Linked DNA regions of Homo sapiens. The protein of the gene in region 1 purifies or fractionates together with the protein of each later gene. This does not show direct contact. Each region holds a gene or a part of one and is shown on either strand. Other genes may lie near its edges. The genes, in order: EFL1, TXNDC5, THUMPD3, LPP, ABCF2, ITM2C and PEX7.

Region 1 (3,500 bases):
AAAATTCCTTTGCAGAGTAATGAGAGTCTAAAAGAAATCAATCATGAATGATCTCAATGACAGAAGAAGGAAGAAAGCCCCTCCTCAACCCCTATTTTAAGAGGACATGCACAGTAGAAGGAAGAAGAGGATACCAACTCAGGTGGATCAGTAGCATGTCCAAGATGCTCAAAATCAAAACAAGCTGAGTGTATGTACCAAAGTAAAAGAGCTAAAGACAGTGCAAAGAGCTTTTTCCAATACTGGTTGAATATCTCTTCTCCAAAATGAGTGGGACCAGAAGTGTTTTACATTTTTTATTTTTTTAGATTTTGGCATATTTGTATTATATACTGTTTGAGCATCCCAAATTAAAAAATAAAGGCTGGGCAGGGTGGGATTACGCCTGTAATCCCAGCACTTTGGGAGGCTGAGGCGGATGGATCATGAGGTCAGGGGTTCGAGACCAACCTGGCCAACATAGTGAAATGCCGTCTCTACTAAAAATATAAAAATTAGCCAGGTGTGGTGGCATGCGCCTGTAGTCCCAGCTATTCGGAAGGCTGAGGTGGGAGAATTGCTTGAACCCAGGAGGTGGAGGTTGCAGTGAGCTGAGACCATGCCATTGCACTCCAGCCTAGGTGACAGAGTGAGAATCCATCTCAAAAAAAAAAAAAAAAAAGTTTCAAATTTTAGATGATTTGGGATTTTGGATTTTCAGATTTGGGATACTCAACCTATACTTTCAAAATAAGGAGACATGTCTTGTCTACAACTTATAGAAACTAGTATCATGTTACAGAGGATAGCAAGAAAATAGGGGTTCGCAATACCTATGTTACCTATCTTTCTCTTCAGTGAGGAGAATGGTGAACAAACTATAGCAAGTGGAACAAGTTGAAGTGGGAGAACACTGAAGTTCACGGTAGCTCAGCAGTTGATGACTAAGTGCTTGGCCTTCTTAAATGAGTTCAAGTCTCCAGGACCAGAATTATATCTCACCATAATAAGAGAATTTGCCCTTTTGAGAAATTATGAATAGTAAGGTAGGTGCCAGACTATAGGAAAAAGGTAAATAATGACTAAACTTTTTGAGGATATAAACACTGCGTTCCATAAATTGCAGACTAGAAAGCCATATGCTAATTTTCTGTAGAATTTTAAGGAAACACTATAGACATTTGTACATGTTTATACAAGTATGAGGTAAATCTTGGGAGACAACATGGACTTTCTAATACAAAATACTAACCTAAGCTTTTTTTTTTTCTAACATGATTGGTAAGCTGATAATTGGGGGACTGTTATAGATGTAAAGGACCGTAACTTCATCGAAACATTTGATTTTCTACCTGTTGAGTTTTATTTCTCATCAGACAAGGACACATGAAAAAAATGAATAAGAAATCAATGTGTTAAGATGGTGGTGATGTGACTTCTTTTTCTTGCCATTAAAATTTTTCTCCTGTTTACTGTTGTAATGCTAATTATGTTATATAACTTAAGAAAAAAATTAAGTGTATAGACTCAGTACTCATAAGAAAAAAATTAAGTGTATAGACTCAGTACTCATACACAAATAAATATAGGAGTTCATACAACTACATGATTTCTACAGTCTAGTCAATTACCAAAAATTTGGATTCTGCTTTTTGGGGAACAGAGTGGGAAAACATAACTTTGTTTTGAAAAAAAAGAAATAGGGTTGATCTTGACTTCTCATATGAATTAATGAGAAGACGTAATTGTTAAATTTCATTAAAAGAAGAATGTTGTATTTCATGTAGGAGGTAACAGTGTAGACACAGACATGTTCTCTACTGGTTGGAGGGTATGTGAGGTGCTGTGTTCAAATATAGTTGCTTTAAGAGGGATGCTGACCAAATAAATTATGTCCAAAAGACAGCAACTGAAATGGTGAAAGGATACAGAAATCCTAACAGAAAAACAGGTGAAGGATTTGGAGTTTTTCTCCTGGATATAAAACTAGAAAACTAATGATTTATTTCAAATACATAAAAGAGTTGTTGCATGGAAGAGAGATGAATGGTGGTACAGATGATTGGAAACTAGCAGGTGACAGACATTTTGCTCAATATAGAAAAAAACACCATTAAATCACGAAGCTGGCTGTGCACTGGCCATCAATAGAAGTATTCAAATAGTGGTGGTATAAGCATTTGTCGGGGTAGGAGAGGCTGGAGAAAAGCTCTTAGGTCTTCTTCAAAGATTTGAGGGATTAAGATTTGATTTTAACTCTTACTTCCGCCTTAAGAAAGTTCTCAATGAAAATGAAAAATAGCATCTGAGAATAGTCTAGATTGGTGTTTCCCAAACAAATCTACAAATTCCATGGCTGTTAATAGGCATGCTATATTCAAATAAGGTTGAAAAGCACTGTATATGACATGCTGTATTTGGAGATTTGATTCACAATGCATACTGGCCTTAACCCAGCTATTTTTCAAATGCTGCTAATGACGCTCAGTCTCACAAAAACCTTAATGTGATGGAAGCCTAAATTTCTTTTGGGAAAAAAAACAAACAAACTTAGATTTCTGCTTTCAGGAATTAATCAGCAAAAGAACCTTCCTAAAAAGAATGTAATTAACCACATATTGACTCAAAGGGCCTCAGGGTTAGAGGAAACTTAATAATTTGGCCGATTCTCTCATCCAGGGCTCAATCCTCCTTTATATTCTCTTCACTACTGAAACAGTTCCATGATCTTGAGAGAATAAGAGAACTACTGTGTGCCAGGTGCTGTTCTGGGCACTGTATTTAAAAAAATTGTGTTATTTTAATCTTCACAATCTGTATGAATTATTATCCCCTTTCTTTACCTATGTAAAGAAACTAAGTCTCAGTGAACTAATACCAGTGAAAAGTCCAAAGAGCTACTAAGTGCCAGGGCTTCATGTCTCCTGGGATCTTAAAGGTTGCTTCTCCCAAAGAGAGAAAAATCAGGAATAGGATTTGATATAATGGTTAGCAGTGAATAAAGCCCCAAATAATTTTCTTTCTCAGAAAGAACCCAGAATTCACAAAAGCCCTTTTGTGTTATGAGTACAAGAATGTTGCCTTATTCTTTGATCATTTTCAGAACAACTTTGGTTACCCAGACTGATATGGTTATTTGCTTGAGATAAAATATGGCACAGGTTTGGATGGTAACACATATGAGCAGTTTAAACCTCATTTAGCAGACCTCTCATTACGGAAAGGATTCTATTTGTTGCAAAAGAAAAGATCTTTAGTAGTCATGTTTTTCCCCTCTCAAGATTTTAATACTTAAGATATCTGGCTTTCAAAGATCTTAGTTTGTTAGTAAATCAGAAGATGGTACAGCTTCTGCAAAACATACTAAACGAGTTTAAGATTTTTGGGTCTGCCAGGTGCAGTGGCTCACGCCTGTAATCCCAGAACTTTGGGAGGCCAAAGTGGGTGGATCACTTGAACTCAGGAGTTCGAGACCAACCTGGGCAACGTTGCGAAACTCAGTCTCTACAAAAAACACAAAA
Region 2 (3,500 bases), on another chromosome or scaffold:
TGCCTGCTGGGAGTCAGAGCCCCTCCCCCACCACACTTACTGTCCACAGTAACTTATCGTGAGGCCTTCAGCCTTTTCCCACTTTTGCTAAAAGTTATTTCATCCATACCAGCGCCCTGACGGCAGAACTCTAGCATGCTTTCCGCTACGGGAATGCATTTTCAGCTGGGATTGTCTTGGGCTCTGAGCAGGGTGTGTTTCCCAAATCACCTGTTACGGACCGACTCCGGCAGGACAGACCGACTCCGGCAGGCCTAGCCAGCGCCTCCCTAAGTGGGTCACTGCCACACAGCTGTGTCGTGTAGGTACCATGGTGGCTTCCTGCCCTTGCTGGCTTCCCATCAGTACTCTGATTAGGTTCCCAGAGAGCCTGTCTCCACCTTACAGTGCAGGATCTACTGTGCACCTGCACATGGTTTCAGCTTTGCACATTTTTTAATGGAAGTTGTTAACTTTTAAAGGAAGTTTTTCACCATTTTCTTCAAGTGCATTGTTGCTGTGCTGATGAGACAGTAGCTGTGAGCCTTAGTGTGGCAGAGTCCTGCTCAGACGCCAGGCCACATGCCACTGGTTAGTTCTCTCCCCGGCCACAGCCTGCTTTCAGTTTGGTATCAGCCCAATGTCAGGGTAGAACAGCTAAACACCTTCTGTGTCCAAATAATGATGCTGTGAGGGTTTGTTTGTTTTTTTCCCCGTAGCCAAGGGGGTGATGTTTCATTTTTTAAACTTTTTTTTATGATAAAATATAATACAGATCGAGAAAACAAATGTAGGGCTTAATGAATTTTTATAGCGTGGTCACACTGTAACTACTGTCCAGTTCAAGAAATAAAACTGCCAGCTTCCCGTGTCCCATGCAGGGCACAGCCCGCCCTCCCTTCTCCAAGAAGGCACTTGCCTGACATTTGTGGAAACCACTTGTATTAGTCCGTTTTCACTGCTGATGAATACACACCCGAGACTGGGCAATTTACAAAGGAAAGAGGTTTAATGGAGAACTCACAGTTCCACGTGGCTGGCGAAGCCTCACAATCATGGTGGAAGGCAAGGAGGAGCAAGTCACATCTTATATGGATATCAGCAGGCAAAAAGAGCTTGTGTAGGGAAACTCCCGTTTTTAAAACCATCAGATCTCATGAGACTTATTCACTATCACGAGACCAGCATGGGAAAGACCTGTCCCCGTGACTCAGTTACCTCCTACCTGGTCCCTCCCACGACATGTGGGAATTCAAGATGAGATTTGGGTGGGGACACAGCCAAACCATATCAACTCCTTTATGTGCACTGAAGTGCACATTCCTGAGCACTATAGTTCTATATGTGTATGTGTTTATATATCTTTTAAGGCTCTTTTAACCTGCATGTTCTCCAGACATCTCTTTATCTTTCTTGCTGAAGACATAGGTGGTTTGACCTGTAGAGCTCCCCGTGGTCCAGACTTTGCTAATTGTGTCCCCGTAGTGTGGTCTACATGTTTCCCTGATTTCTCTGTTTCCTGGAAATTGGTAGTTGGGTCTGGGGACAAAATCAGTTTCAGTGTGATGTTTTTTGGGGGCACAAGAAGACCTCATAGCTGGTGGGGGCACAGAACGTCCAGTTGTCTCTCTTTGGGATGTGGTCGACCATGACAGGCAGAGCCTGGGTCCGTCCATTCCTTAGGGCTGCCAAGTGCCGAGGCTCATTCAAGCGTCCCTTCATTTTTTAACCAAGAGAAACTCACCCTCATTTATCACCTGGTTATTCAGCGGTACAGTGCATATAGGAGAGGTGGGAGAAATGCCTGATTCTTTCCTTTTATTACAGTTTTCCAAATAATGAGTTGATTGCTGATTGTCCATCAAAGATGACAAATTTGGTTTTGAGTATTGTTATGAAGTCATGAACAGAAACACATTTGATGGAGTCCCTTTGTACCAATTAAAGTGCTCATGCCGAACTAAGATTTGCTAAGCAGGACAAAGATCTGATTCTTCAATTAACTCTCTAGTGAGGTCTGACATAAATTACAGTTCCTCTTTCCCCCGTCTCTGCCTTGGCTCTCCACTCCAGGCGACCACTTTATCAAGTTCTTCGCTCCGTGGTGTGGTCACTGCAAAGCCCTGGCTCCAACCTGGGAGCAGCTGGCTCTGGGCCTTGAACATTCCGAAACTGTCAAGATTGGCAAGGTGAGTGAAAGCCCTTATTAAACTGGAAATGGACTGCTTTGGGCTGGATTAATTAGCAGAGTGGCCCATTATTCATTCCGTGTGCAAAGTCGCAAACTTGATTTATTAATTCCATTTAGTGTGCCACTTGATAATTCATTTCACCTTCACAGATGGCAGTCTGATTTTGAGTTTTGCTGGCTTTTCCACAGCCTAGAGATAAATTATGGCCTCGGCTGCTTTGTTTATTTTGAAGAGATGGCCAAATCTGAATTGGCAGCCCCAGAGCCCGTTCTGCAAAGAGATGGGGTAGAGCCTTGTAGAATGTTCACTGGACGAACTTGGAGACCGTCCACGTTCGACCTCACCCAAGAGCTCTCTCTAAAAGGACCCTGGCTCTGTGCTCCCCCAAGCACGCAGAAGACCCTCCCTCAGTTTGCACTGTGCCTGGGATTCTTTCCAGCATTTCCTACTTTATACAGAGAAGCCAAGAGTGGTGTCTGACAACTTCTGTGTAACTGGATTTTCTGGAAATATCCAGTGTAGCTCCAGGGACATCACTTTTATTCTTCTACACTTTCCAGCACCCACCAGACACCATGCATAGATTTCCTTTCTTAAAAATCTCATTTTTCTACCTTGCCATGGGGCTGATTTGTATCCAAAAGTAATGCTGCGTGTCTAGGACTGAATGATGGTTAACAGGATGATCTACTTGGGATGGTGAGATGGTCAAAAGCATAAACTTGGGGGTTGGGTAGACCTGGCTGGCTGACCTTGGGAAAAACCTCTCCACGCCTCGGTCTCCCCCTTTGCAAAACTGAGCTAAGATCTACTGTGTGGTGTCTGGGCAGATGAAAGTACACTGCTTAGTGTGATGCTTAGCATGGGGCAGATGCTTGGTAAATTGTAATCACTTTTGTTGTCAGTTAAATGGATATTTCACTGTTGCCTCTTAAACGCTTACGATAATATATACTAATTATACATGTTATTATCAGTTTATATTTATTGAACATTTCGGGGAAGTAATTATAAAATAATCTTGTCTACTGTCTTACCCCATTCCTTGTATCCTTACTTAATTATTGTATGAAATTTTATGGGAGATTCTTTTAGGTTTATATCCATAGAGGATCCTAGCAGACCTAGGCGTGAGCAGACACAAGCCCAGGTGACCACGCTGAAGCCCTTCATCCCTGGCACATGTGGCTGGGTTACACTGGACCCTTAAAAATGCTTGTCCTCTCCCGACCTTGGGCTGAGGCCTCTTGTACTTCAGTTCCGCACCTTAGCTGCTCTCTGACGGGTCTTAGGTGTTGAAATAGTATTTTTACCCCCGTTTGCTGACAT
Region 3 (3,500 bases), on another chromosome or scaffold:
TTGTGGTTGTGGGAGTTTACATAATCTGATATATTTGAAAATTGCAAAATAAAATGCTATTTCCGGCCGGGCATGGTGGCTCACACCTGAAATCCCAGCACTTTGGGAAGCTGAGGCAGGAGGATTTCTTGAGCCCAGGAGTTTGAGACCAGCCTGGGAACATGGTGAAAGCCCATCTCTACAAAAACACAAAAATCAGCTGGGTGTGATGGTGTGCACCTGAGTCTCAGCTACTCGAGAGGCTGAGGTGGGAGAATGGCTTAAGACAGGGAGGCAGAGGTTGCAGGGAGCTGAGATTACACCACTGCACTCCAGCCTGGCTGACAGAGCAAGACCCCAGGTCAAAAAAATAATAGTAAAATGCAATTTCCTTTGTATGATAGGCTTTTGAATGGTAACCACCATATCACTGGAAGGATTTTGTAATTATAAATAAAAAACCTGTCAGCAGAACATAAATACCAAGCTGTCACATGTCATTTGTGGAATGAGGTGACGTGACCCTAGGCCTGAACAATGTTCTATGCAGATTAACAGAAGGTTTCTGACACGAAAGCCGGGAAAGGTCTGCCTCTGCTTAGGGGTGAGTAGCAAACACCTTTGTGTTCCTTTGTGAACAGTAACATACTTCTCATCCATGAGTGCAGTGTTTCATAACTTTTTCTTTTGCCCAGACACTTGAGGGTGATAACATACCCTGTCTACAATCCTACGATGACATCAAACAAAAGGGAAGTTGAAGTATCCCAGAATTTTGGGTGGGTGGGGATGTAGAGGGGACCTAGAGTTTGAGGAAGGCTCTCAGTGATTCCGATTCCCAAATATTCTTTTTTTTTTTTCCTAAACCTATTTGGATTTTCAGCATTGGAAAGAATTGGGTTTTATAGCATAACACTTCTAAATTAAAAAAAAAAATTATTCTAGATCAAGTATTTTATACTTTGGTGAACAAATCTTTATATATACCTTGTCAATTTATTCATAATTTTATTCATTTTGATCATATATCGGCTTAGGTTTTTCTACATTGACATCTGCATGTCTACTCTTACATGGAAATGGCTCAAACTTCATGTTTTAATTTTTTTCGGCCTTTATTTTTACTCGGAGCTCTGTTGTGTATTTCTTGACATGCGGTGACCTTACCTGCTATTTCATACACATATCATGATTTCATACTAGAAAACAACACTCTGCTTTCTTCCCAGAATCCTTCTTGGCCACAAGAAGGACTGGGTTTTTACTGTGCAGTCTCTTTAAGCCACAGTAATTTCTCTAGCTTTCACGGAACACAGTCACATGTAGACTTCTATGATTTCAGTCTTGGATTTTAACTCCCAGAACAGATACCATTTTCTAATTACAGTTTGGATTATTTCTCCCCTTGTGGGCTTGCTTTGGACTTGCTCATCTGTCCAGTTTCTACCCAATCATATAATCTGCTGTGTCTCCCTGCAGTTTATTCAAATTGGCTGTCAGTATACTATATGGAAGAACTACTATGTTTCACACAAACTTCAGTGATTTTACTGGGAGCTCCCTCTTCTAAATTCTTTAAAAACATATAGATGATACTGATTATTCAAGGGGAATCTACTGTGAAATATTCTCCATTTAGAAAATGCCTTTCCATTTCTTGCTTTGCTTTACACAGTTTTTATGAGTCCTCTCAATATCATGGTAATTTTGAAAACTAAGAGCATTTGGTATTAAGCTTGTTAGACTTCCTAAAAAATCCAAGTAATGTTCATAAGTTTCCCCTTTTTACAACTATACTTATTCCCTCTAGGAACTTAAGTGGATTACAGAGAAGAAAATTGCCTTCCTCCAGTTTATGCTTATGCCTTCAATTATCTTTTCCCATTCAAGTCTACCAGCTTGTCTGTTACACAAAGAGGACTCATCGGCAGTTTGTAATTCTCAGCTTCCTCTGTAATCTAGTGAATAGATGTCACTAACAATGTATCTAGGCCAGTGGCACATGGCTCTTTGAAATAAGTAGTTACATTCTTTACAAAAAAGTTCCACTTTCTATTGTTAATTGTTTTAAAACTCTTGGGTCCACTGATCCAACCATGGAGATTTCATTATGTCTAATTTGCCCATTAGGTCTAGAATATTCTGGATGTATCACTCTTATCTAAAAGCTAAAGAAATATGATTACCTCTATTGGTATTGCCCCAGTTCCACACATTGGATCGACTATTATATCATAAGGTAGAGGATCACAGAGCCTAGAGAAAAGAAAACAGCCTATGTGAAGACTCACTCAAAAGCTGAGGCTTCTATACTGATGATTCCTGAAGCTTTAAGATTGAGGACCTACCACACTAGCCCGAAGGAACACCAATCTACACATATTTTAGAAATCAATTTGTGGCCGCGCACGGTGACTCACGCCTGTAATCCCAGCACTTTGGGAGGCTGAGATGGGTGGATCGCTTGAGGTCAGGAATTCAAGACCAGCCTGGCCAACATGGCGAAACCCCGTCTCCACTAAAAATACAAAAAATTAGCTGGGCGTGGTGGTGGGTGCCTGTAATCCCAGCTAGTACAAAGGCTGAGACTCGAGAATTGCTTGAACCCAGAAGGCGGGGATTGCAGTGAGCCAAGATCATGTAAGATGCAGCCTGGGTGACAGAGCAAGACTCCGTCTCAAAAATAAATAAATAAATAAATAAAATCAATTTATAATGATATGTTGACTGTATATTCCATTACTTGGGGAAAAAAAATCCTTATAACTAAATCTCCTTTGACTATCTTCCAAAATCCCATTTCACTCTCAGATGAAATTTAGTTTGCAGACATCTTAAAGTACACATGTGTACACACACACACACACACACGCTCATGCATACTTTTTGACAACAGTGTTGTTTTCAACAGAAACCTGTATTACATTAAAAAGACTCAAAAATGTCTCAAGTCAAACATGCATCAATATAAGGTTACTGGCAATGAGACATTCAGTATTCCTTTCCTTCTGAATTTAAAGCTAATCTTGATATAAAAAAATTGCTCTGTGGGACTAGGTAATAAAAAAAGGAAAAAAAAATGCTTTACTTTGAGCACTTAGTATTTCCTGGGCATGGACTTAAGCTCTTTCCATGCATTATCTCACAGAATCCTCAGTAAGGACCCTGTTAGATAATTATCATTATTCTCATTTTAAAGGTAAGCTGATGCAAGGAAACATGAAGTTACCTGCCCAGGGACACAAAACTAGTAGGTAACAGATTCAAGATTAGAGGCATTACTGTTAGTGGCTTAACTGTTATCCTCTTTATGAAGCATCCCACCCTGAAACAGGTCAGTAGGTTTCTTCCCTTCTCTTGTTCTTCTAATCTTTTCATGTGCTGGTGTGGGACTTATCGCATGTATGATAACTATTTATCTCCCTCACAAGACAGATTCTTGGGGGTTAATAGTGGGTTCTTATTGTAACATTGGTCCTGCTCTATCTCCTTGCTCCTACTCCTCAACACATGGCAATAGA
Region 4 (3,500 bases), on another chromosome or scaffold:
CAAAAGGCTCCAGCAATTCACAAGTCCATCAGTCCTTCACATGCGCCTCTCCCACGGCACTCTCTTATATTATAGATATACATTAACATGATTTTATCAACCCTCATAAATAGTAAGTGCTTACGATCTTGACATACCCTTCAAACAAACTTAAATTCCACTTCTATAAATGTAGTTTATTCAGCAGACTTTTTTTTTTTTTTTTGGAGACAGAGTCTTGCTCTATTGCCCAGGCTGGAGTGCAGTGGTGCCATCCTGGCTCACTGCAACCTCAGCCTCCTGGGTTCAAGCGATTCTCCTGCCTCAGCCTCCCGAGTAGCTGGGATTACAGGCGCCCACTACCACACCTGGCTAATTTTTTTTTTTTTTGTATATTTAGTAGAGACGAGGTTAAATCATGTTGACCAGGCTGGTCTCAAACTCCTGACCTCACGTGATCCACCCAACTCAGTCTCCCAAAGTGCTGGGACTACAGGCGTGAGCCACCATGCCTGGCCACTCAGCAGACATTTCTTGAGCACCTAGCACCCCCTCTAACAAAAACAGTGGATGTTTGTTGAGTCCTTGCCTTATGCCTGGCCTTATGCACATTATTTACACTACCTCACTCAATATTCACCTATAAGTAGGGTGACCATATAACGTATCCTCCGAATCAGGACACCTATGAGAGTAAAAAGGAACACTACTGATACCACTGAAGTCCTCTGCAAGTTGACAGTTGCGCTGCTGGGTGGTGGCCTGAGTAATTAAGGGACACTAACAATGGCTTCAGCAGGAAGGGTGCATGCTGGAGGCAGGTCAAAGCATCCTCCTTTAAGGTCAGTGACCCTGCCCTGTCCTGATCCTCATGCTTATCCAGCCCATGAAAGGTTCCCACACAAGTTTCTGAAGAAGACCTGGTTTCACCTTCAACACCAGCTTTCCATTTGAACTACAGAGGGATCTCCAGCTATGATGCAAAGTCACAACACAAGCAATTACAACAGTAGAAGCAGACCCTCCACGGGTAACAGATACAAACAGTGCAAACAAAACCCAAGAGAAGGTGGGATGGTGGCAGTGGAAGAAGGGACACTGCACAGCCATCCACTGGTGACAAATCAGCGCACAACCTGGAAATGCCCGTGAATGTCTGTGGCACTCATCCCACTTTTGCGGGCACACTATACTCAACTGTGGTGACCTCATTAATAAGAGATCTAAAAATGAATACGTGGAGAAAACAAATAGTGCCTGTGACCACCAAGGGAGCACCCTGTATTAAACAGCACAACGAGGACTTGAACTAGGAGTTGTCTAGGTCTAAATCCTTTCAGCCCCACAAGCACAGTAAGGTGTCATCACTGTGTGCCAGATGCCCCGCTGGGCACCCAGAATCGGACACATGTACAGACTGCATTACCACTGACAAAGCGCCATCACAGAAATGCCCCTGATTCTCACAAATGCATTGTGATAGATCACAGGATCTCCATTGAAAGGTAATTTAGGCTCAGGGATGTTCCAGAACTTGTTCAAGATCACAGGGCTTGTGGTTAGCCCAAACATAGGTCTTTGTTTTCCCTACACCAAAAATCACCACTATTGCCAAAATGATCCGGTATGGTGAAGCCCAGATCTTTGAACTCCCTGTCCCAAATCTGATTTTTAGTCTTGCCTTCCAAAGCCTTGAATATAGTCACCTAATGCTACTAATTAGTACTAGTGAAATAATAATAACTACTTCTCACCTGTGTAAAGGGCTTGCAGGGATGTTCACATCAACTATGCTCATTTGCAAAAGTTAAGGAACAAGACAGGAGTTTTGGAGAGGGGGGTTTGATTCTCACTCTGCCACTTAAGGCCCTGCACCCCAGTTAGGAAAGTTTTATGACCCTTGAACTCCCGACCAATATCTGCAAGATAAGACTGATCTAGCCAACTTGTCTCTTGCATTATATTTGGGAACAAAGTAATACAAATGATTATAAAATGTATTTGCTACATTAAAAGTGCTATGAAGGCTATGAAATACTCATGGTTTCTGTGAGATACATTGTGATGGGCAGGTTCAATAGGGAAGACAAACACAGGAGGATCTACCTTGTAATGGATCTAAAACTATTGCCTAAAAACTTCTAGGCAAGCAAAAATAAGTAAATATTAATGGAGAATGGTAGAGAGCAGGGGCAGGGAGCTGTCAAAAGCAAGGAACCTTGATATTAGCATGGAAGCATAGCTTGGTTCTCACAAACAAGCATCAATGGCAGCCATCCATGGCAGTTACATAAATAAATCGCCAGACCACACACACTCAAACTGAACCATCTTAATCTGATTGCTTTCTAAGTATGAAGCGCAAGTTTCAAGCCTAAGATACCATAATTTCCAAGTTACATCCTCTCCTAAAATTCTCCAAAGCAGAGAAACCCCTAGTGGAGGGTGGAGTGGGGAAGGAAGGTGTGAGGTACAGCAGAAATTGAGAATGAAAAATACCTGGAAACAGGGCTGGCCTAGGAGTAAAGGCTGTGACCCAACTCCACTTCAGCTGACAAGGGTGTGATTGAGCAGCTCTGTCCCTTTTCTGGGGCCTCAGTTTCCTCATCTGTATAACAAGGGATCAGCTCACTCTGGCCAAGAAGGCCCCAGTCCATGCTTGGCTGGCAGCTTGCTGCTTCTCCTGTTGACTACAAACTTTGGTGTACATTAAAAAAATTCTTTTCCCCAGCCAAGATGGATAAGCTGTCAAACAATTAGAAGGACAAAAGTAGGAATTAAGCTACCTGATATTATTCTAGCAGCAAACAGTTTCTGGAATCCATTTTTCCCTCCGTACGCTGCTGACCCGATACAGGCCCATTTCTCCTGTCCTGGAATACTTCAGCAGCCTTCTAAGCTGGGACTCTGCCTCTGGTCTTAACCTGCCCTCAGTCTGCCACCAGAGCTCTTTGAAATACAGATCCAACAAGGCCCTCCTTTGCTCAAAATATAATAATAATAAAAGCCTTCCTGCTCCCTCCCACCTCTGCCATCATCCTTAGCTTGGCCCATCAGCTCTTTATCAACTAACCCTCCCTAGCCAGCCCCATCTCCCACAGTGATCTCCAAACACACATTTATATTCCTCAAATACTTTTAGGCCTCAGGCCTGTGCACATACACCAAGGTCCCTATGGCTAGAAAGCTCTTCCACTCCTATCCACCATGTAAACTCCTATTCACTTCTCAAAACCCAACCAAATGTCTTCTTTTCCATAGGCATTCACCAGTTCTTCTAGATGATTGGTCACTCCTTTCTCCATGTTCCCATTAGCCCTTTGCTCATTACTTTATTAGAGCCTTAGCATCTTCTCTTTCAGTTTCTTTCCTATGATAGAAGGAAGACTCTGGAAGGCAGAGCCTATCTCAGTTTTCTTTGTAACCAGTATCTAGCATTTCTGCCTGGCATACAGTAATCACTTTGTACACAAGTACCGAACTCAATACATGAAATTGAGTTGTATCTGATCACAGATACG
Region 5 (3,111 bases), on another chromosome or scaffold:
GTTCTTGTCTTGTTCCCTGGGTTGTGGGATGGGCTCCAGCTGCCCATGATCCTAAACTTGAATAAGCAGGTTGGAAAATGATAGAATGAATGAATATAAAATATTGTAAAAGAAAAATTCATAAAGTTTATGATAACCATACAAATGCAGTCAGCAAACCAGCCACATTCGTGATTATTTTTTAACTGTGTGGTGGTAGGAGGTGCTCCTTACAGTTTTCCCTTTGCAAACATTTATTCCTTGGTTTAACCCACCACTCTTAAAATTGCCATCACTCACTGATTCACCAAAAATTGGGTAAATATCTTACCTTGTTTTTATTAATCTTTCTTAAGTGTATGTATAGCTCACATGTATTTTGATGTTGAATATTAGAAGTGACTGGGTTTTTTGGCCAGGTGCCGTGGCTCACACCTGTAATCCCAGTGCTTTGGGAGGCCGAGGCAGGCAGATCACTTGAGATCAGGAGTGTGAGACCAGCCTGGCCACATGGTGAAACCCCCTCTCTACTAAAAATGCAAAAAAAAAATTAGCCAGGTGTGGTGGCGGGTGTCTGTAATCCCAGCTACTCCAGAATCTCTTGAGCCTGGGACAGAGAAGTTGCAGTTAGTCGAGATCTCGCCACTGCACTCCAGCCTGGGCAACAGAGCGAGACTCCCTCTTAAAGAAAAGAATCTTTGGATCTTTATTTAGAAGTTTGGTGATCTTTTTTTGTGACCAAAAATGCTGCAGGAACCTAATTCTTGTTTATATCAGTTAGCCTGTGGCAAAATTAGTTTTGCTATATGTTGTTTCACTTAAAGTGAAACTTTAAAATAGGTTCTGTTTCTAAGAACCTATCGATGACAGTGACAACTTTGAGGACTTAACTGTTTTTAATTTTAGAAAATGTATGTTGCACCTACATCCAAGTCCTTTGTTATACAGCATAGTGCATTCAGTAGACATTTTATAACTACTTAAATTGTATCTTTGCCTCTTGAGAACATCTGCTTCAGTACATCTTCCTAAATATTTTTAGAGTGGCCAGAATAGCAGTGTGCGAGTTGGTGATGTATTCTTTTTAGGAAGTTGAGTCTTGTTCAGTGTGAACATGTGTTTGTTTGCCTGCTCTGCCTATGTTTCTAACTGGGCTTCCTTTGTTTCATGCTTACGTTTCTACTTTTTTCTTCCTAGCTACTACCCACAGATGGCATGATCCGAAAACACTCTCATGTCAAGATAGGGCGTTACCATCAGGTACAGGCCTGGGGTTGGGATCCGGGGAATTGCCCAGGGTATAGGGAGGGGCTGTATCTGGCTGAGTTCCAGCCAGCCGCCCCCACCCCCTGGCAGGAATTCCAGCCTAGGTGGCTCCTACCTGCTTCTTGAACCCAGAACAGGTGCCTGGGATAGAAATAGGAAGTTACCTAGTAGGGTTTATTTTGAAGCGGGATGCCAGTCACACCCGGGTGGCTTCCATTTTTCCTGTAGCATTTACAAGAGCAGCTGGACTTAGATCTCTCACCTTTGGAGTACATGATGAAGTGCTACCCAGAGATCAAGGAGAAGGAAGAAATGAGGAAGATCATTGGGCGATACGGTCTCACTGGGAAACAACAGGTCAGTAAAGGAGGGTGTGGTGAGGATGCCAGATAGCTGGCAGACTGTGGCTGGGTGGGTCAGGGGATACTGTCCTGGCAGCCTGGGTTTGGAAGCTGTCCAAACCAGAGTCTCCTCCATTTGACTCCCCTAAGAACCTACTACCTTTTCTTTACTCTAGGTTGTTATGTAATGGAGCATTTTGAGGGGGCAAGGATAGCGTGCCAGTCTCTGACATGCCCTTGTGCCATAGTGCTTGAGGGCAAAGGAACTTGTAATCTAGAAAACAAATTTCTGGATTCAGATCTGGAAGGATCCAATTCATTGCCAAGAGAGCGAGAGGTGTGGGCTTAGTAATGGCAAGGGCTTCAGGTTTCCGGATGAGTCTCTTTCAGGCCTCAAGAGACTAGTGGGTCTCTCTGAGCCTCACTTTTTATAAATGGCGATGCTAATGGAGGAGTCAGGGAGAAATGAGGGAGAGATGAGCTGTGCTGTTTGGCGGGGATAATGCCAAGTTATATGTAGGTCACGGTTCTACTCAGGTGAGCCCAATCCGGAACTTGTCAGACGGGCAGAAGTGCCGAGTGTGTCTGGCCTGGCTGGCCTGGCAGAACCCCCACATGCTCTTCCTGGATGAACCCACCAATCACCTGGATATCGAGACCATCGACGCCCTGGCAGATGCCATCAATGAGTTTGAGGGTGGTATGATGCTGGTCAGCCATGACTTCAGACTCATTCAGCAGGTGAGGCCCTGGCCAGGGGGTGAGGCACAGCAGAGCTTCTAGGGGGTTGGGTAGGGTAGTCATGGCATGTGGAGGGTGCATAATACCCGCCTACTGAATTAAGAGAAGGGGCTCAGAGTGTAGACACAGGTGGTGAGGACCAGTTCTTATGCCTCTTTGGGGCTACTTAGAAAGCCTTAACTGAAACACTTCATTTCTTCAGTAGCTATCTGGAGATGTCAACCAACTTAGCATTTTGGGCCCAAATGGGAAAGAGAGTTGGGTAGAAAACGGTGCTTTTACTACTGTCCCAAGATTCTTCAGTCCAAAAATAGTATTCTAAGGAGGATTTTGATTAGACAGCTACCACAGTCATTTGAGAAAAAGTTGTTGCTCATTCCTCTGAAGCTCTGGGGAAGATGAGAGGTGGAGAAAAGAAGGCTGAGAGTGAAGCCTCTGAATAGATCTAGGCCCTGCCAGGGAGCTGACAATAGGAGTGACACAGCAGTTCCTGGCTTGGAAGGCTCCAAACCTGATGATGGTACCCTTGGGTTAGAACATCCCAAATAACTTAGAAGTAGTGAGACAGTGAGTTGGATATGGGTTTGGGGGGCGGAGTTTTCTTCCTAGACGCCCCTCAGGACAGTCTGCTGGGCAGAGGCAGGGACAGTGACTAGCCCAGGATTAAGTCCAGGTTTTGCTTTCTAGGTTGCACAGGAAATTTGGGTCTGTGAGAAGCAGACAATCACCAAGTGGCCTGGAGACATCCTGGCTTACAAGGAGCACCTCAAGTCCAAGCTGGTGG
Region 6 (3,981 bases), on another chromosome or scaffold:
TCTTTCCCCACCTGTCTGTCCTCAAGGTTGCTAGGTTCATCCAAGATCTGAGCCAAGAGGTCCGGGTCTGGGACGTGGGCGCTAAGGGCCCAAGGCAGCTGCAAAAGACCTGAAAGGTGAGAAGAGAGATCAGTGGAGGACCCCGGACTGTCCTCAAGAAGCGGACGGACTCCCCTGCCCTCCACTGGCAGCCCAACAGCAGAACCAAAGCGGACCACTCAGCACAACCTGTGTGTGTTGCTGGGCGCTGTCCCTGGCCCAGTCTGGACCAGGAGCAAAGAGGAAAGATTCAGGGCGTTAGTGCCAAGAGCAGCCATCCCAGCAACAGAAGCCCCTGCTTCCCCAGTACCCGTGATACTTGGGAGGAGCAGAGTCTTGAGTGGAACCCGAGCCTCTGACACCCGCCCTGGGGGTCTTCCCTCCACTCTCGCCAGGGTCCTCCTGGATGAGTGAGACAAGGGCAGTTCAGGAGGTCACCCAATAACTGAGGTCGCAGCAACACGAAGGAGCCAGGGAGCAGGGGCGGCCTTCCCTTCTCCACTCCAGGCGGCTCCAGCGTGCACCCCAGGACCCCCCAGGAAGGTTTTGCAGGAATAAAGAATGAAGGCAGAAGCAAGATGGAGGATGAAGGAGGCGTGGATGGCTTCAGAAGGCAAGACGGAGGCAGCAGTTTGGCGCCTGTCTCAAAGCCTCCTCCCCGCGCCAAGGACAGGTCGGAGGAGGGGGGCGTGGGGACAGGTAGAGCGGAGGCTCCAGCGTTTCTAAAGGGGAAGACCTGAAGTGGGGCAGGAGAGACGGGTGAGTTGTCTGGAAGCTGCATTTGCCTGGCAAACACTGGGTTAACAAAGACTTGCGTTGCGGGGATGCTGGCCTTGGACAGGGAATGCGAAGGGATTATGCTACGGAGAACGGATCCGAGCGTGACGGCTGAATGAATGAGTGAGCGAGTGAGTGAGTGAGTGAGTGAGCGAGCGAGTGAGTGACTGTGCGAGCGAGCGGCAGAAGGAACTCCGACCCGCCCCAGGTGCGGAGCGGCGCGCCCGGCAGGGGTCACTGCGGGCCCCGCGGGCGGGAAGGGGGCGCAGGCGCGGCGGGCGCCGGGGCCCTCCCGCGGGGACGGGGCGGGGAGGGCTGGGGGTGGGGTTAGAGAGAGGGACGCGAGCGGGATCCAAACTTCCGGTGCCTGCAGAGCTCGGAGCGGCGGAGGCAGAGACCGAGGCTGCACCGGCAGAGGCTGCGGGGCGGACGCGCGGGCCGGCGCAGCCATGGTGAAGATTAGCTTCCAGCCCGCCGTGGCTGGCATCAAGGGCGACAAGGCTGACAAGGCGTCGGCGTCGGCCCCTGCGCCGGCCTCGGCCACCGAGATCCTGCTGACGCCGGCTAGGGTGAGAGGGTCTGGGGCTCAGGCGGTGGGGCGGGGGACCCAGGCTCACGACCCAGGCGCGCCCCGTCGGCCCTGGGGACTGCCCGAGGCGCGTCAGGGCCCCAGAGCCCGGGGTGGAGCAGGGTTGGGAAGTCTCGAATGGTTGCTTATCCCAGAATGAGGAGGGGGCTTAAGTCCCGTACTAAAGCGGCAGCCAAAAGCTGAAGTCCGAAGAGTGGGAGGCGTCTGGTTCTGGTCTTCAGGTGGAGAAGTGCTCGAGGTCTCTTCCAAAAGTGGGGGCCCCCTCGCCGCCTTATAGGGGGAGGGGGCTGGTCCGAAGAAGTTCGAGGAATGTTGGTGGGGGGGTACGCGTCTGGTTCCAATCAACTGGGAAAGCCGCGAGTCGAGTCCCCAGGTGGGGGATGGGAGGAGGGTTAGACGTAGTTTTTCCAAAGTAGGGCGGTGGGACCTGATTGGCTGGGGAATTGGGGGTGGGGGGGTCTGGTACCAACGAAGAGGGTGGGGCCGTTGATTTCCTCCGAAATTGGGGGCTGCGAGGGACAGAGGATGTGCTGCTGGCCTGCACCGGAATTGACAGACCAGAAAGTGATGAAATGGAAATCAGCCAGAACCGACGGCGCTGCGGCCTCTGGACGTCGGGGGTCCGAGGCCGGGTGCCCCCTTCCCACCCCACGCCCTGCCGTCTGGGCCTCCCTGCTCCCCTCTCTTTTCTCCATTCCCAGCCTCTCGCTGGGCTGTCCCCCGACCCCACGGGGAGGGCTCCCAACTGCCCCAGTGCCCTTGCATCCTGGGTCCCCGGGCTCTGTGCGCGTTCCCCCACCCCTGTCATCCCCCTCCCCTACCCCGGCTTCCTCCACTTTCCCTCTGGCCGGGGGGGAGAGAAGGCATTTCCGCCGTGGAAAACTGTCTGAGCTGCGTGCCTTGTGTCCGGGAAGGGCCCGCAGGGGGCAGAACGCGTGGCGGGCAGGGACAGGGAGGGAGGGAGAGCTGGCCCAGCCAGGTTTTATTGTGCCTGGCAAAGGTGTCTACGTGGGCGCCGCCCCCAGCGGTCTTGTGGCTTACCAAGCCCATGTCCTCCCCGCCTCCCCACCCCGCATTGAGGCAGGACTGAGAAAGTCTTTGTCCACTGCTTCCCCACTTCCAGATGCAGGCTTCTGAAGAGTCTTCCTGAACGCCTAGCCCCCTCCCCAGGTTTTGTGGCTCAGGTTCAGTCTTGCCTGGGGCATTAAGGGGCCTGCAGAGGATGACCTGGACCCTGGAGGAGGGGGCGCCGGAGAGGGCCGTCAGAGTTGGGTGTCAGCCTGGGCAGAGACCCTGAGTGAGGAATGCCAGGAGACTGAGAACCCCCTGCCCTTTTATGGTGGTCACTGCAGCAACCAGTGGCTCAGAGCCACAAGAGTTCAACAACCACCTAGGCGAGGTTGGGGGTTGCTGTGCACCCCATGAGAGCAGCTCCCCCCTTTTCATCTGAAGCTTAGGTGGAGGGGGCGCTCCATATTTGAAGAAGATGGTTCTGCAGCTTTAAAAGTTTGCAAGGGGTTCTTCAAGACTCCTTTTCTTTGGAAGGGAAGCTGCCCTCCACTCAGCCTGGGGAGGGGCAGGGATGGGGGCAGGAGGCAGCACGCTTGCCCATCTCTTTTCCTAGCCACCTCTTCCTGGAGATATTTGAGGAGGGAGGACCAGGTCAGACAGTGGGAGGGTGTTATTCCAACTCCATCAGAAGGTCCCCCAGATTTTGCAGGAGCGGCACATTCTCCAGCCGCAGCCTGCTGATGGCATGGGTTTGGGCAGTCTGACAGAGACCTGCATCTCGGGGCATAACTGACATCCTAGCTTCTGGCTTCTCATCAGGCTCTGAAATTGAGCGTCCTTTCTTCCCCCTCACCCAGCATGAAATGGAAATATCAACATCTTCCTGCGTGCTGTTTGTAATGGCCTTGAGCCTGCTGAGTACCTCCTCCCTCAAACTTTGTCAGTTGGGCAGGGTCCCCTCCCTCTCTAATTGGCAAGGGGGAGCTTAGGACTATGCGATCTGGGGAAAGAATTAGAATCCTGGCATCTTTAGGACAGAACTGCATGTTAGTAAACTTTCACAGCTTCCCAAGGCCCTGGCGTGGTGCAGAGGGACTTTAGGTGTTGCAAGTTGGCTCTGCCCATCACCTGCTAGATTTGGAGCCTTGGAAACAGTTCACTTCTGCGGGCCTCCTGTTGCCCCACTTGGCCAACCCGCACATTTCCTCCTTACCCAGTTTCTGGCAAGGAGCCAGGCCTCGTCTCCTGCCCCCAGCAGTGAGCAGGCAGGAGGCCCATTTCTCAGCTGTAGCTCTGTGAGCCGAGGGATGGCAGCCAGGAGGCTGCTTTCTCAGGGCAGGGCGTGTAGATTTTGTCCCGTACTGTTGGGAATGCCCAGGAAAGCTTATTAAAACGTTTCTTCTGGCTGGCAGTGACCCCAGAACCCTCCTTGGTGTCTGAACTGGACTCCAAAACAAGATTTATTTTATTTTATCTATTTTATTTTATTTTATTTTTTTTTTTGAGACAGAGTCTCACTTTTACCCAGGCTAGAGTTCCGTGGCACGATCTTGGCTCATTGCAAC
Region 7 (3,500 bases), on another chromosome or scaffold:
TCAAGTAGCATGCTGTACAGATAGCCTCACATTGCGATTAAAAGTGGACTCTGCAATTAGGCTGCCCACGTTCAGATTTCATATCTGCACCTTACTAGCTTTGGGACTCTGGACAAGTTACTTAACCTCTCTGGGCCTTGATATAGTATCTACTTCATATAAATGAAGATTAAATGAAATAAAATACATAAAGTGCTTATGAACAGGATCTGACACTCAGAGTGTTCAATAAAGGTTTGCTATTTTTATTTTTGACTGTTTACATCAGCCTAGAGCAGGGGTTGGCAAACTACGTCATGTGGACCAGGACCAAATCTGGCCTGCAGTTAGATTTACAAATAAAGTTTTTTTGGAATCAAGCCATGCGCATTCATTCGGTATTGACTATGGCTGCTTGGTGTGTGCTATAAGAGCTGGGTTTAGTAGTTGTGACAGTGACCAAATAGCCTGTAAAATCTAAAGTATTTACCATATGGCCCTTTATAGAAGAAATGTACCTTTTTTGAAGAAACTTACCATTTACTATATGGTCCTTTGTAGGCGAAATTTAGAGGATAAAATCAAACTCTTTAGCTCTCAAGATCTTCAGTGATTGCTTCCAAACCAGCCTTTTTTCTATCCATAACTAACAGATGGCCACAGCAGCTCTTTGGTTTTCACTGGCCCTTCTATTCCTTTTATAGCTGCTGTCTGTTGCTGGATTGTGCTTCCTTTAGTGTTCCAACTACTCTTCTGTCTTTTGCGTGAATATGGGCAGAGGCAGGGCCAGGACTAGGGTAGAATGTGTGAGGCACTCACTCTAGGTACACAATTTAAGGGGGCCCCAAAAAACTTGATAATCAAGATAATTTGTTAATGTTTTTAAAAATAAAAATTAATGCAAAAAACCCATTATGAACAAAATATCGATATTTTACTTTTTTTGAAGCTTAATATTAATTTTATTAAACTTTTTTCCAGGTTTATTATGATTGGCAAATAAAAATTTGTAGGCTGGGCACGGTGGCTCATGCCTGTAAACCTAGCACTTTGGGAGGCTGAGGCGGTAGGACTGCTTGAGCCTAGGAGTTTGAGACCAGCCTGGGGAACATGGTGAGACACTGTCTCTACAGAAAATAAGAAAAAAATTAGCTGGGTGTGGTGGCACGCAAGCGTGACTCCAGCTACTTAGGAGGCTGAGGTGTGGGAGGACCGCTTGAGCCCAGGAGGTCATCGCTGCAGTGAGCTGAGATTGTGCCCACTGCACTCCAGCCTGGGCGACTGCGCAAGACCCTGTTTTGGAAAAAAAAAAAGAAAAATCTAAGTTGTACAGCTTAGGGTTTTGATCTAAATATATCTTGAGTAATGATTCCTACAGTCAAGCTAATTAACATATCCATCACTTGAATGGTTACCATTTTCTTGTGTGTGAGATAAGAACATTTCAGATCTACTCTCAGCAAATTTCAAGTATTCAGTAATACATTATTATTTATAATAGTTACCATGGTGTACATTGAATCTCTAGAAATTATTCATCTTATAACTAAAAGTTTGTATCCTTTGACCAACATATCCCCATTTCCCCCACCCCCAGCCCCTGGCAAACACTACTCTACTGTATGTTTCTCTAAGTTTGACTTTTTTAGATTCCACCTATAAGTGACGGGATCAGTATTACTGATGTTTTTTTTCCTCAGCCTCCAACATGGCTCAATATAGTACTGGGCAGCAGAGAGAAAGTAACCCACATGTAAGCGGCTTAAGCCCAGATACTCATACTTCCTACGTATATGTGGGAGAGAGTAGTAAGATTCAAAGTAACCTGCTGGCTGATCACCAATGTGATATACCAATGGCATATACTCAGGTCCTTGTCAGGACTAATTTCATAAAGTATAATTATGCACATATTTTGTTGAACTTAGTTTACAGCAGTGATCTGTGTATAATCTGTTGTATAAAATGAAAGAATGAAAACATTTCCAAAAGTTTTCAAGTAGTTCATTTGAAATGGTTCACTGAGAGCAGTGAAGCATATACTTTAGAATAGCAGCATTGGATAACTAAAACTGTTTACCAAGAGATCTGGAAGGATCACCTGGTTCCTGCAAGCTTTTTCTAAGAAAGGCCAGATAGGGATATTAATTGAATTTTAATGCTTTCCAATAAACATTGACCCAGCAAGCTTTTTTAGATGACTAACTTTCTAATCTGCTTTGACATTTCTTCGTGGGGCTGCAAACAGTGATTTGTTGGTAGGTTTTAAAATATGTATAATTTGTTTTAGTGAAGAAGGTTTGGAAGTATACTGTAGAATTCTGTGAAAGCAGAATGGAGTCTTATCTGTAAGGAATAAGTCTGGAGGAATGGACAAGATCAACTTTTCATTTCTCAGACACCTTGTTGAGATGGATAGGAATTATTTGATGTTTTGACATAGTAAATTAGTTGTTCTGCCTCTCATTGTTATGTAACAAGAGATAAAATGCAATGTTGAACTTGATGGTCTTTTGCTTTCTAAACACTTTTCAATGTTTTTAGGTGTATAGTGTTGATTGGAGCCAAACCAGAGGTGAACAGCTTGTGGTGTCTGGCTCATGGGATCAAACTGTCAAATTGGTATGTTAGCATTATTGTATTCAAAAACGAATATTCCCTTCTCTAGAGCTTCCACTAAATTTTCTTCTCTTTTTCCAACATACTTCTGTAGCTCTATGATTCGACAGCTGAGCTTTCTTTTAAAAAAAAAATTAAAACACTTATTAGAACTTAAAATTTTCTAATCTTTTGGCTGTGAACTAATAGTTAGCTCAGCATTAGTTTGGCCCTTAAATACAGTCTTGCTTTATATCAAAACAGATCTTTAAAAATCCTTGAGATCTGTATATATATTGTATGCATATATATAAATGTATATAGTTTATTGGTGTATGTAGTATATGTAAAAGCATAAATTTGAATTTATCCCTCAAGTAATTGATCTATTCATTTATTTGTAGTGGGATCCAACTGTTGGAAAGTCTCTGTGCACCTTTAGAGGCCATGAAAGTATTATTTATAGCACAATCTGGTCTCCCCACATCCCTGGTTGTTTTGCTTCAGCCTCAGGTAAATTATTCTGTATTTACCAAAAGCCTTACTTGTAGTGAATGGTGGCCTTGTTTTTACCATTAGGTGGCGCTGTGTACCTTAGCTTCAGAGAGAAAACAGGAGAATATTACTATTCTTTTGTGTTCTTAAGACTTTACTTCTTTTTTTATTTTTATTTTTTTATTTTTATTATTATACTTTAAGTTCTAGGGTACATGTGCACAACGTGCGGGTTTGTTACATGTGTGTGCATGTGTGCCATGTTGGTGTGCTGCACCCATTAACTCATCATTTACATTGGATATATCTCCTAATGCTATCTCTCCCCCCTTCCCCCACCCCATGACAGGCCCCGGTGTGTGATGTTCCCCATCCTGTGTCCAAGTGTTCTCATTGTTCACTTCCCACCTATGAGTGAGAACATGCGG

The links.
Region 2: the proteins of EFL1 (region 1) and TXNDC5 fractionate together in Homo sapiens (co-fractionation; one large-scale study listed by BioGRID). This does not show direct contact.
Region 3: the proteins of EFL1 (region 1) and THUMPD3 fractionate together in Homo sapiens (co-fractionation; one large-scale study listed by BioGRID). This does not show direct contact.
Region 4: the proteins of EFL1 (region 1) and LPP fractionate together in Homo sapiens (co-fractionation; one large-scale study listed by BioGRID). This does not show direct contact.
Region 5: the proteins of EFL1 (region 1) and ABCF2 fractionate together in Homo sapiens (co-fractionation; one large-scale study listed by BioGRID). This does not show direct contact.
Region 6: the proteins of EFL1 (region 1) and ITM2C purify together in Homo sapiens (co-immunoprecipitation; one large-scale study listed by IntAct). This does not show direct contact.
Region 7: the proteins of EFL1 (region 1) and PEX7 purify together in Homo sapiens (co-immunoprecipitation; one large-scale study listed by IntAct). This does not show direct contact.

The regions. Positions count from the first base shown.
Region 1 is NC_000015.10:82,147,735-82,151,234, forward strand, and holds part of EFL1 (elongation factor-like GTPase 1), read right to left. Parts: intron 1-3,500. UniProt on the Homo sapiens protein: GTPase involved in the biogenesis of the 60S ribosomal subunit and translational activation of ribosomes.
Region 2 is NC_000006.12:7,890,289-7,893,788, reverse strand, and holds part of TXNDC5 (thioredoxin domain-containing protein 5 isoform 1 precursor), read left to right. Parts: intron 1-2,052; coding exon 2,053-2,168; intron 2,169-3,500. UniProt on the Homo sapiens protein: Protein disulfide isomerase of the endoplasmic reticulum lumen involved in the formation of disulfide bonds in proteins. Can reduce insulin disulfide bonds.
Region 3 is NC_000003.12:9,376,554-9,380,053, reverse strand, and holds part of THUMPD3 (tRNA (guanine(6)-N(2))-methyltransferase THUMP3), read right to left. Parts: intron 2,236-3,500; coding exon 2,166-2,235; intron 1-2,165. UniProt on the Homo sapiens protein: Catalytic subunit of the THUMPD3-TRM112 methyltransferase complex, that specifically mediates the S-adenosyl-L-methionine-dependent N(2)-methylation of guanosine nucleotide at position 6 (m2G6) in tRNAs.
Region 4 is NC_000003.12:188,160,657-188,164,156, reverse strand, and holds part of LPP (lipoma-preferred partner), read right to left. Parts: intron 1-3,500. UniProt on the Homo sapiens protein: May play a structural role at sites of cell adhesion in maintaining cell shape and motility. In addition to these structural functions, it may also be implicated in signaling events and activation of gene transcription.
Region 5 is NC_000007.14:151,214,095-151,217,205, reverse strand, and holds part of ABCF2 (ATP-binding cassette sub-family F member 2), read left to right. Parts: intron 1-1,176; coding exon 1,177-1,239; intron 1,240-1,473; coding exon 1,474-1,602; intron 1,603-2,123; coding exon 2,124-2,327; intron 2,328-3,014; coding exon 3,015-3,111. Other genes in the region: ABCF2-H2BK1 (ABCF2-H2B protein), read left to right, coding at 1,177-1,239, 1,474-1,602, 2,124-2,327, 3,015-3,111.
Region 6 is NC_000002.12:230,863,761-230,867,741, forward strand, and holds the start of ITM2C (integral membrane protein 2C), read left to right. Parts: upstream 1-1,181; 5' UTR 1,182-1,265; coding exon 1,266-1,385; intron 1,386-3,981. UniProt on the Homo sapiens protein: Negative regulator of amyloid-beta peptide production. May inhibit the processing of APP by blocking its access to alpha- and beta-secretase.
Region 7 is NC_000006.12:136,843,092-136,846,591, forward strand, and holds part of PEX7 (peroxisomal biogenesis factor 7), read left to right. Parts: intron 1-2,523; coding exon 2,524-2,601; intron 2,602-2,981; coding exon 2,982-3,090; intron 3,091-3,500. UniProt on the Homo sapiens protein: Receptor required for the peroxisomal import of proteins containing a C-terminal PTS2-type peroxisomal targeting signal. Specifically binds to cargo proteins containing a PTS2 peroxisomal targeting signal in the cytosol.